Linked DNA regions of Homo sapiens: region 2 is linked to region 1. Evidence: fine-mapped expression QTL. A gene starts in region 1. The other region holds a variant in brackets. All regions are shown on one strand. Distances are from middle to middle.

Region 1 (4,398 bases):
GGTTGGCATGATTCATTTATTTATTCAACAATTATTAATCACTTGCCATGAATTATTTCAGACATAGAGGATACAGGAGGGAATGCAAGAGACAAGGTCCTCCTTGCTCTCATAGAAAGACACATATAGTAAACAAGGGAATAAATAAATGTGATGTTACGCAAGAAAACAAAGAGAGTAATGGGAGAAAAGGGACCTTTTAGGAGGTCTCTCTAGGGACGTAACATTTTTGCTGAGATCTGGCAAGTGGTTGTACTGTTAAGCATTTTGCAGTTATTTATTAGTATTTTCATTTTACAGACAAGGAAGTATACACAAACAGACACACATATTTAAATTGGACAACGCATTTATTCATTACCCGTGTATTTATTGAACACTTGGTATATGCCAGACCTGTACTAAATGCTGAAAATATAGCTGTGAACAAGACACGGCTGGTCTTGCTCCCATGAAGCTTATAGACTATTAAGGAAGACATTAAATAATTATGTAAATATTAATATGATTGGAGATAAATATATCATACTTAGCTTGCTGATTCTGAATAGAATCAGAGTTTAGTATGATTTGTTCCCTAGCTCCCATACAATACTCTACACCACATTCAGAATCCTTCAAACGTATGTTGAAAAGAAAATTGATCAGTCATTTGGAGCTTAAAATGAACCTAACCATTCTGTTCTACCAAAAAGCAAATATCGACATCCTCTTCATCAAAACCATAAGATTACCTTCTCCTCAACAAAGTTCTTTTCCTCCCTTTTCATCGATCTTAGCATTTTACAACTTCTATTTCCCAGGTTTATAAAATTATTTGTAGGTAAAATTGCTGAGATAACTTTCCCAGGGTGACTCCAGATTTTTATACTGAGCCACAGAAACATTGGTAAGGAAAACTCTTCTAAGAAAGACAGTACCACCCCTGGTCAGATAGGCTTCTGAAAGTATTTAAGGTCTCATCTGAAATGCAAGCTCTTTGTCCCTACAGCCAAGGGGGCTTTAGCCTCCCCACAGCTCCCTAAACATCCCTCCCTCTAAGTATCCAAGTAATAACAGTAGTTTAACATATACAGCCTCAACGCAAGGTAAATTCACTGCTGTTGTCTCCAAACCCAACCAGACCCTGCCTGAAGCCCCTCCTATACAGAACTTTTGCAGCTGCCCTTGACCACCTAAAGGAGAAAACTGGCTGCTCTTAGGTTTGCATCTGTGTTTCCCAAAGTTTCCTGGAAGTAATTTACATACTTTCTGGATGATGCAGAAGATGGATTCCCATCTGTCACTGAGCAAGGTGGGGAGCTAAGCAGACAGTACAATGAAAATCTCAGCCACTACCTGGTCTTTTTTTTGAGATGGAGTCTTGTTCTGTCACCCAGGCTGGAGTGCAGTGATGCAATCTCAGCTTACTGCAAACTCCACCTCCCAGGTTCAAGTGACTCTACTGCCTCAGGCTCCCAAGTAGCTGGGGTTACAGGCACCTGCCACCACACCTGGCTAATTTTTTATTTTCAGTAGAGATAGGGTTTCACCATGTTGGCCAAGCTGGTCTCGAACTCCTGGCCTCAAGTGATCTGCATCTGCCCACCATAGCCTCCTAAAGTGGTGGGATTACAGGCTTGAGCCACCGCATCTGGTTCAATTAAAATTAAAAAAAAAATTTATCAACTTAATACATGTACATAGTTTTTCAAAAAATCAAATAGCACCAAAAGGCTCAACATGAAAACTCAGCTGCTACATTTATAGCCTTTTGTGTGTGCATACTCCTCATCACTTAATAGATAGTATCACACAACTGAGAAATTCTGAGAGAAACTTTGGCTGCCCAAGACTTTAATGACAGCATTTTTGATTGTTGGTTTTGTTCATCTGTTTGTTATCTTTGCTCAAAAAACAGATGTGCCAGTTCAGGAAATCTTACACAGGAGGGGAGATGAGGTACTCACTAGTTAACAGATTCCAACACAGATGGAGATTATGGCAGACTTGTTTCTTAGAAGAGCAGCCCTGAACCTTGAGTTCTCACATCTGCTTTTTCCTCGTGGCAGTCTAAAGAAGAGGGAGGAGCAGTCTGACAATCCGGAGGAGCAAGACTGGCCCAAAACACTTTCCTTGATTGGTGGAGACATTCTGGAGGAGGAGCCAAGCTCTGGGCTAAAGTTTACAGGACTCCCAGCGGTTCCTCTTACAGGTAATGATTTACAGAAACAGCAAGCTTTTGAGGGGCGGAGAAAGCAAATTATTAACAAGAAGGAAAGTGTCCAAGGAGTTGCCGAAGTGGTTAGTTCTGTAAAGGGGCAGAGAGAGCACTTCTCAGAAGGAAGAACAGATGGAGGAAGCCATAGAGGAGTTTTGAAATTGAAAGGAAAGAAGTTGAGGGGCGGTTATGGGTTGGCCTAAATCTCATCAAGCCCATTGGTGCGTTTATCTGTCGAAGTGGCAGGACTAAACATAAACGCTATCAGGTTACTCCCCTGCTCAAATCTTTCAGTGCTTCTTTTTCCACTCCAGGTAAAATCCGAGTCCTTACATGAACTGCAAGGAGTTGTATGATCTGGCACAGGGTCCTCTGATCCACAGCCCATTCTCCTTCCTCTGCCTCACTCTGCACAGCCACCGGCCTCCTTGCTTTTTCTCAAACACACTTGCCTGTTTCAGCCTCAGGCTTTCTGAATTCACAGTTTCCACTGACTGGAACTCTTTCCTCAGATATCCCCCTGGCCAAATTCCTCATTTTCTGAGGTGTCTTATTAAATAACTCTTCCCTTACCTCATTTTCTAAAGTAGCACTCTTCATTTTTTCTCTTTTACCATTTTTTAACTTTTTACATCTCTTACTATCACCCTTGAGGGTAAGAACTCTTTTTGTTTGATGGTGTATCTATTGCCTGGAATAGCTACTGGCAAATTTTAGGCATTCAATAAATAGTTGATGGATATGTGAATAAATAAAGGACTCTTTCAATTACATGTGAGAGACCCAACTTTACTTAAAGAGGAATTTGTTGGTCACTTTTGAGTTCTAGGAGTCTTTTGTTGTTGATTCCTTGGGATTTTCTGTGTAATCACATTACCTGTAAATAAGTAAACAGATCTTACTTCTTTCTTTCAGATCTATATGCGTTTTATTTCCTTTTCTTGCCTTATTGCGCAGGCTAGAGTGTCTAGCTCTACGTTGAATAAGAGTGATGAGAGCAGACATCCTTGCCTTGCTTTTGATCTTAGAGGGAAAACATTCAGTCTTTCATGGTTAGGTACAATATTAGTAGTAGGTTTTGTGTAGATGCCCTTTATCAAGTTGAGGAAATTCTCCTCTATTTCTATTTTTTTCTGAGTGTTTTTATCATGAATAGGTGTTGAATTTTGGCAAGTGTTTTTTCTGCATCAGTTACTATAAGCATGTGGTGTTTTTCTTCTTTAGCCTGTTAATAAGATAGATTACACTGATCTTCTAATATTGAACCAGCCTTGCCTCCCTGGAATAAACCTTGCTTGGTCCTGTTGTATATTTCTTTTTCTGTATTGCTGAATTCTATAGTTATGTCTCTTGACAAATTTGAGAACTTTTCAGCTATTATTTCTTGGAGTAAATTTTTAGCCCCCATGTTAGATCTTTTATGATAGTTTCACAGGTCCCTGAGGCTCTGTTCTTTTTTTTCTTTTTTTTCCCATTCTAGTTTCTTTCTTTTGTTCAGGTTGAGTAAATTCTGGCTTCCAGTTCTTTGATTTTTTTCTTCTATTATTTCTATTCTGATGTTAAGCTCATTATTAGAGACAGGGAAAAAACAGTGTTTTTTTTTCTACTCTCACATACCATTCAGCATAATGTTAGCAGTGGTGAATCCATACGGATCTACAATAACTTGATTCTTGCCTCTTCAAAGGAAAGAATTCATCCAAGAGGCATAAGGCAGAGTGAGAGACTGAGGCAAGTTTTTGAGCAGGAGTGAGAGTTTATTAGAAAGTTTTAGAGCAGGAACCAAAGGAAGAGGGGCAAGCAGGCAACTTGAGAGATCCAGGTGCCCTGTTTGACTTTTGACTTTGCGTTTTATACATTGGCATGCTTCCGAGGTTTTGTATCTCCTTTGATTTTTTCCTTGGCATGGGCTGTCTGCACGTGCAGTGGCCTGTCAGCACTTGGGAGGGGCCACATGTGCAATGTCTTTACTGAAGTTGTGCACATTCTCATTTGAGGCGTTTTTCCCTTACCAGTCAAGTGTTCCTAGAGGAAGGTTGTATACCAGTTAAAATCTGCCATTTTGCCTCTTAGTACGCATGCTTGAGCACACTTGCCCAGTTCCTGAGATCTTATTGGAAAGCTGCTGATCACCAGCTTTAGGTGTTTTCTATCTCTTAGGAGACTGCCTTTCCCTGGCACCTACTGCAACCAATTAT
Region 2 (4,398 bases), 97 kb after region 1:
CTTTTCGCTAGTTTTACACCCTCAGTCCGTAAACATATTCAGTGTACTTATCCTAAAATGCCTTCCTTTGAACCTGCTACACACTGGGTCAACCCATCTTTTCCACCTTAATACCAAACTTCACCAAAGAACATCCTCCATTTGCTGCAGCCACCTCTGCTTCACCTAGCCTGCTCCTGAATACTGCAGTGCTCCAGTGGTCTGCCCTTACTGTTCTTCTTTCTAAGCAATTTCCTTCACCTCCATTTTTCTCAGCAAGCACATCAATGCAGGTGGCTGTCAGGACTGTACCTAGGGTCTAGTCTTCTCGGTCCAAGCTGATTCTCCCAGGCTAGCAAAACATTTCCAACCTGCTAGTTGGTAAAGCCCATCTGATCATTCCTCCAGAACATCAAACTGCACTTCCCATATCTCATTACCTACCTCTATATCAATGCCTCCTCCTGTGTCACCATCATTATTTTCTGTACCACATTCTGCACCTGAGACTTAAAGCACCACAAACAAGACTGACCACCCTTCCCATCCTCATGCCTAATTCTTCCGCTGCTATAGAGAGTGTCCCAAAAGGTCTTTATGTATTTTAAGCCTTAGTAAATGCTTAAAGTTTAAAATTCTACAAATTTACCAAAAAAGCATTTGCATTACTATTTCCCACTTACTATTTTTATGAATTATTCATAATAATTTTTAATTTAGATATTGTATTAGTCCATCTTATTGAAGACTAAAACAAAAAGTCTTTTAAATTTTTGATTCAGAGGGTGCATGTGCAGATTCGTTACATGAGTATATTGCATGATTCTGAGGTTTGGAGTAAGAATATTCTCATGACCCAGCTAGTGCATATAGTACCCAATAAGTTTTTCAGCCCACGACCCCCTCCCTGTCTCTCCCTTCTCATAGTGTCTATTGTTATCCCCAGCATCTATTGTTTCCAACTTTATGTCCATGTGTATTCAATGTTTAGTTCCCACTTATAAGTGAGAAAAAAATGATGTTTGGTTTTTTACTCCTGCATAAATTTACTTAGGATAACAGCCTCCAGCTTCATCCATGTTGCTGCCAAAGACATGATTTCATTCTTCTTTATGGCTGTGTAGTATTGCATGGTGTATATGTAGCACATTTTCTTTATACCAGTCCACCATTGATGGGCACCTAGGTCAATTTGATGTCTTTGCTATTGTGAATAGCACTGCCAATAACATATGAGCCTCTGTGTCTTCTTGGTAGAACCATTTATTTTCCTTTGGATATATACCCAGTAATGGGATTGCTGGGTCAAACGGTAGTTCTAAGTTTGTTGAGGAATTTTCAAATTGCTTTCCACAGTGGCTAAACTAATTTGCATTTCTATCAATAGTATATAAGCATTCCATTTTTTCCAAAGCCTCACCAGCATTTGTTTTTGACCTTTTAATAATCACCATTCTGATAGGTGTGAGATGGTATCTCACTGTGGTTTTAATTTGCATTTCTCTGATTAATGACATTGAGCATTTTTTCATATGTTTGTTGGATGCTTGCATGTCTTCTTTTGAGAAGTGTCTGTTTATGTACTTTGCCCATTTTTTAATTGGATTATTTGGGTTTTACTTGTTGATTTGTGTTCTTTGTAGATTCTGATATTAGTTCTAATTAGACATCACATATAAGAGTCTACAAATAACTTAAATTCTTTGTAGAATCTGGATATTTGATTCTGGATGTTGTCAGATGCATAGTTTGAAAATATTTTCTCCCACTCTGTAAGCTGTTTACTCTCTTGATAATTTCTTTTGCTGTGCTGAAGCTCTTTAGTTTAATTGGGTCCCACTTGTTAATTTTTGGTTTTGATGCAATTGGTTTTGGGGACTTAGCCATAAATTCTTTGCCATAGCTAATATCCAGAAGAGTATTTCCTAGATTTTCTTCTAGGATATTTACAGTGTAATGTTTTATATTTAAATCCTTACTCCATCTTGAGTTAATTTTTGTATATGGCGAAAGGTAGGAGCCCAGGTTTATTCTGCTACATATGGCTAGCCAGTTTTCCCAGCACCATTTATGGAATAGGAAGTCCTTTCTCCATTGCTTATTTTTGTTCACTTTGTTGAAGACCATATGGCTATAGCTGTGACTTCTCTATTGTGTTTCACTGGTGTATTTGTCTGTTTTTGTACCAGTACCATGCTGTTTTGGTTACTGTAGCCTTATGACATAGTTTGAAGTTGGGCAACGTGATGCCTCTAGCTTTGTTCTTTTCAGTATTCAAGCCCTTTTTGGTACTATATGAGTTTTAAAGTCGTTTTTTCTGATTCTGTGAAAAATGACATTGGTATTTTAATAGGCATAGCATTGAATCTATAAATTGCTTTAGGCAATATGGTCATGTTAACAATATTGATTCTTCCAATATATGAGCATGGAATCTTTTTCCATTTATTTGTGTCATCTCTGATTTCTTTCAGCAGTGTTTTGTAGTTTTCTTTGTAGCC[A/G]TCTTTCACCTCCTTGGTTAGATGTATTCTTAGGTATTTCATTTTTAGTGGTAGTTGTAAATCAGATTGTGTTCTTGATTTGACTGTCAGCTAGAACATTGTTGGTGTATGGAAATGCTAATTTTTGTACACTGATTTTATATCCTGGAACTTTACTGAAGTTGTTTATCCGTTCCAGGAACCCTTTGGTAGAGTTTTTAGGGTTTTTTAATGTATATAATCATATATTGTCAGCAAAAAGAGATAGTTTGACTTTTTTTCTATTTGAATATCTTTTATTTCTTTCTCTTGCTTGATTGCTTTGGGTAGGACTTCCAATTCTATGTTGAATAGGAGTGGTGAGAGTGGGCATCCTACACTTTTTCCAATTCGCATGGGAAATGGTTCCAGCTTTTGCCTGGTCAGTGTGATGCTGGCTGTGGGCTTGTCATAGATGGCTATTATTTAGAGGTATGTTCTTTCAATGCCTCATTTCTTGAGGGGCTTTATCATGAAGAGAGATTGGATTTTTTGAAAGCTTTTTCTGCACCTACTAAGAGGATCATATGGCTTTTCTTTTTTATTCTGTTTAAGAGGTGAATCCTGTTTATTGATCTGCATATGTTGACCCAACCTTGCATCCCAGGAATAAAGCCTACTTGATCATGGTGAATTAACTTTTTGATGTGCTGCAGGACTCAGTTTACTAGTATTTTGTTGAGAATTTTTGCATCTACGTTTATCAGGGATATTGGCCTGGAGTTTTCTTTTGTCATTGTATCTCTGCCATATTTTGGTGCCAAAAGCATTCTGGCTTCATAGAATGGTTAGAAAGGAGTCCCTTCTCCTTAATCTTTTGGATTAGTTACAGAGGGATTGGTACCAGTTCTTTGTATATCTGTTAGAATTCAGCTGTGATTCTATCTTGTCCAGGGCTTTTTGGGATTAGTAATTACTGATTCAATTTCAGAACTTGTAATTTGTCTGTTCAGGTTTTCACTTTCTTTCTGGTTCAATGTTGAGAGGCTGTGTGTTCCCAAGAATTTATCCATTTCCTGTAGATTTTCTAATTCAGGTGCATCAGTGTGTTCATAATAGTCTCTGAGAATCTTTTATATTTCTGTGGGACCATTTATAGTGTCATCTATGTCATTTCCGATTGGGCTTATTTTGATCTTCTCATTTTTTTCTTTGTTAATCTAGCTAGCAGTCTATCAATATTGTTTATTCTTTTGAAAAACAAGCTCTCAGTTTCATTGATATTTTGTATAAACTTTTGCATCTTAATTTCATTCAGTTCTTTAATTTTAATTATTTATTTTCTTCTGATAGCTTTGGTGTTTGTTGGTTGTTCTTTTTTTTCCTAGTTCCTCTAGAAGTGATATTAGATTCTTAATTAGCGATCTTTCTAACTTCTTAATGAAGGCATTTAGTGCTATAAACTTTCCTCTAACATTGCTTCAGGTGCATCTCAACGATTTTGGTAGATGGTATCTCTATTTTCATTTTCATTAATTTCAGAAACTTTTTTGACTTCTTGTTCACCCAAGAGTTATTCAGGAGAAAATTGTTTAATTTCCATGTTTTTATATGGTTTTCAGTGATCTTGTTGACATTGATTTCTGTTTTTCTTGCACTGTGGTCTAACAATGTACTTTGGTAAGATTTTGATTTTTTGAATTTATTGAGACTTGCTTTATGACTGAACCTGTGGTCAATTTTAGAATATGTTCCACGTGGGAACAAGAAGAATGTATATTCTGTGGTTGTTAGGTAAATTATTCTGTGGATGTCTATTAGGTCCAATTGGTCAAATGTTGAGTTTAAGTCCATAATTTCTTTGTTAGTTTTCTGTCTCAATCATGTGTCTAACATTTTCAGTGTGTTGTTGAAGTCCCCCACTATTTTTGTTTGGCAAAATCTTTTTATAGGTCAAGAA

The links. PIP is the estimated chance that this variant, and not a neighbour inherited with it, causes the effect.
Region 2: its variant is the best candidate, but not a certain one, in a credible set for the expression of ACSM3 in whole blood (INTERVAL, PIP 0.51).

What each region holds. Positions count from the first base shown.
Region 1 is chr16:20,761,677-20,766,074 of GRCh38, reverse strand. It overlaps ACSM3 (acyl-CoA synthetase medium chain family member 3), which reads right to left and starts at 2,061. Exons shown (of 14, transcript NM_005622.4): 1 at 1,950-2,061. RefSeq lists an enhancer at 1,795-1,924.
Region 2 is chr16:20,664,515-20,668,912 of GRCh38, reverse strand. All of the region lies in intron 6 of ACSM1 (acyl-CoA synthetase medium chain family member 1), which reads left to right. Among named protein-coding and RNA genes, the nearest start is that of ACSM1, 31 kb to the left of the region's middle. The variant A/G (reference allele first, on the strand shown) is at 2,481.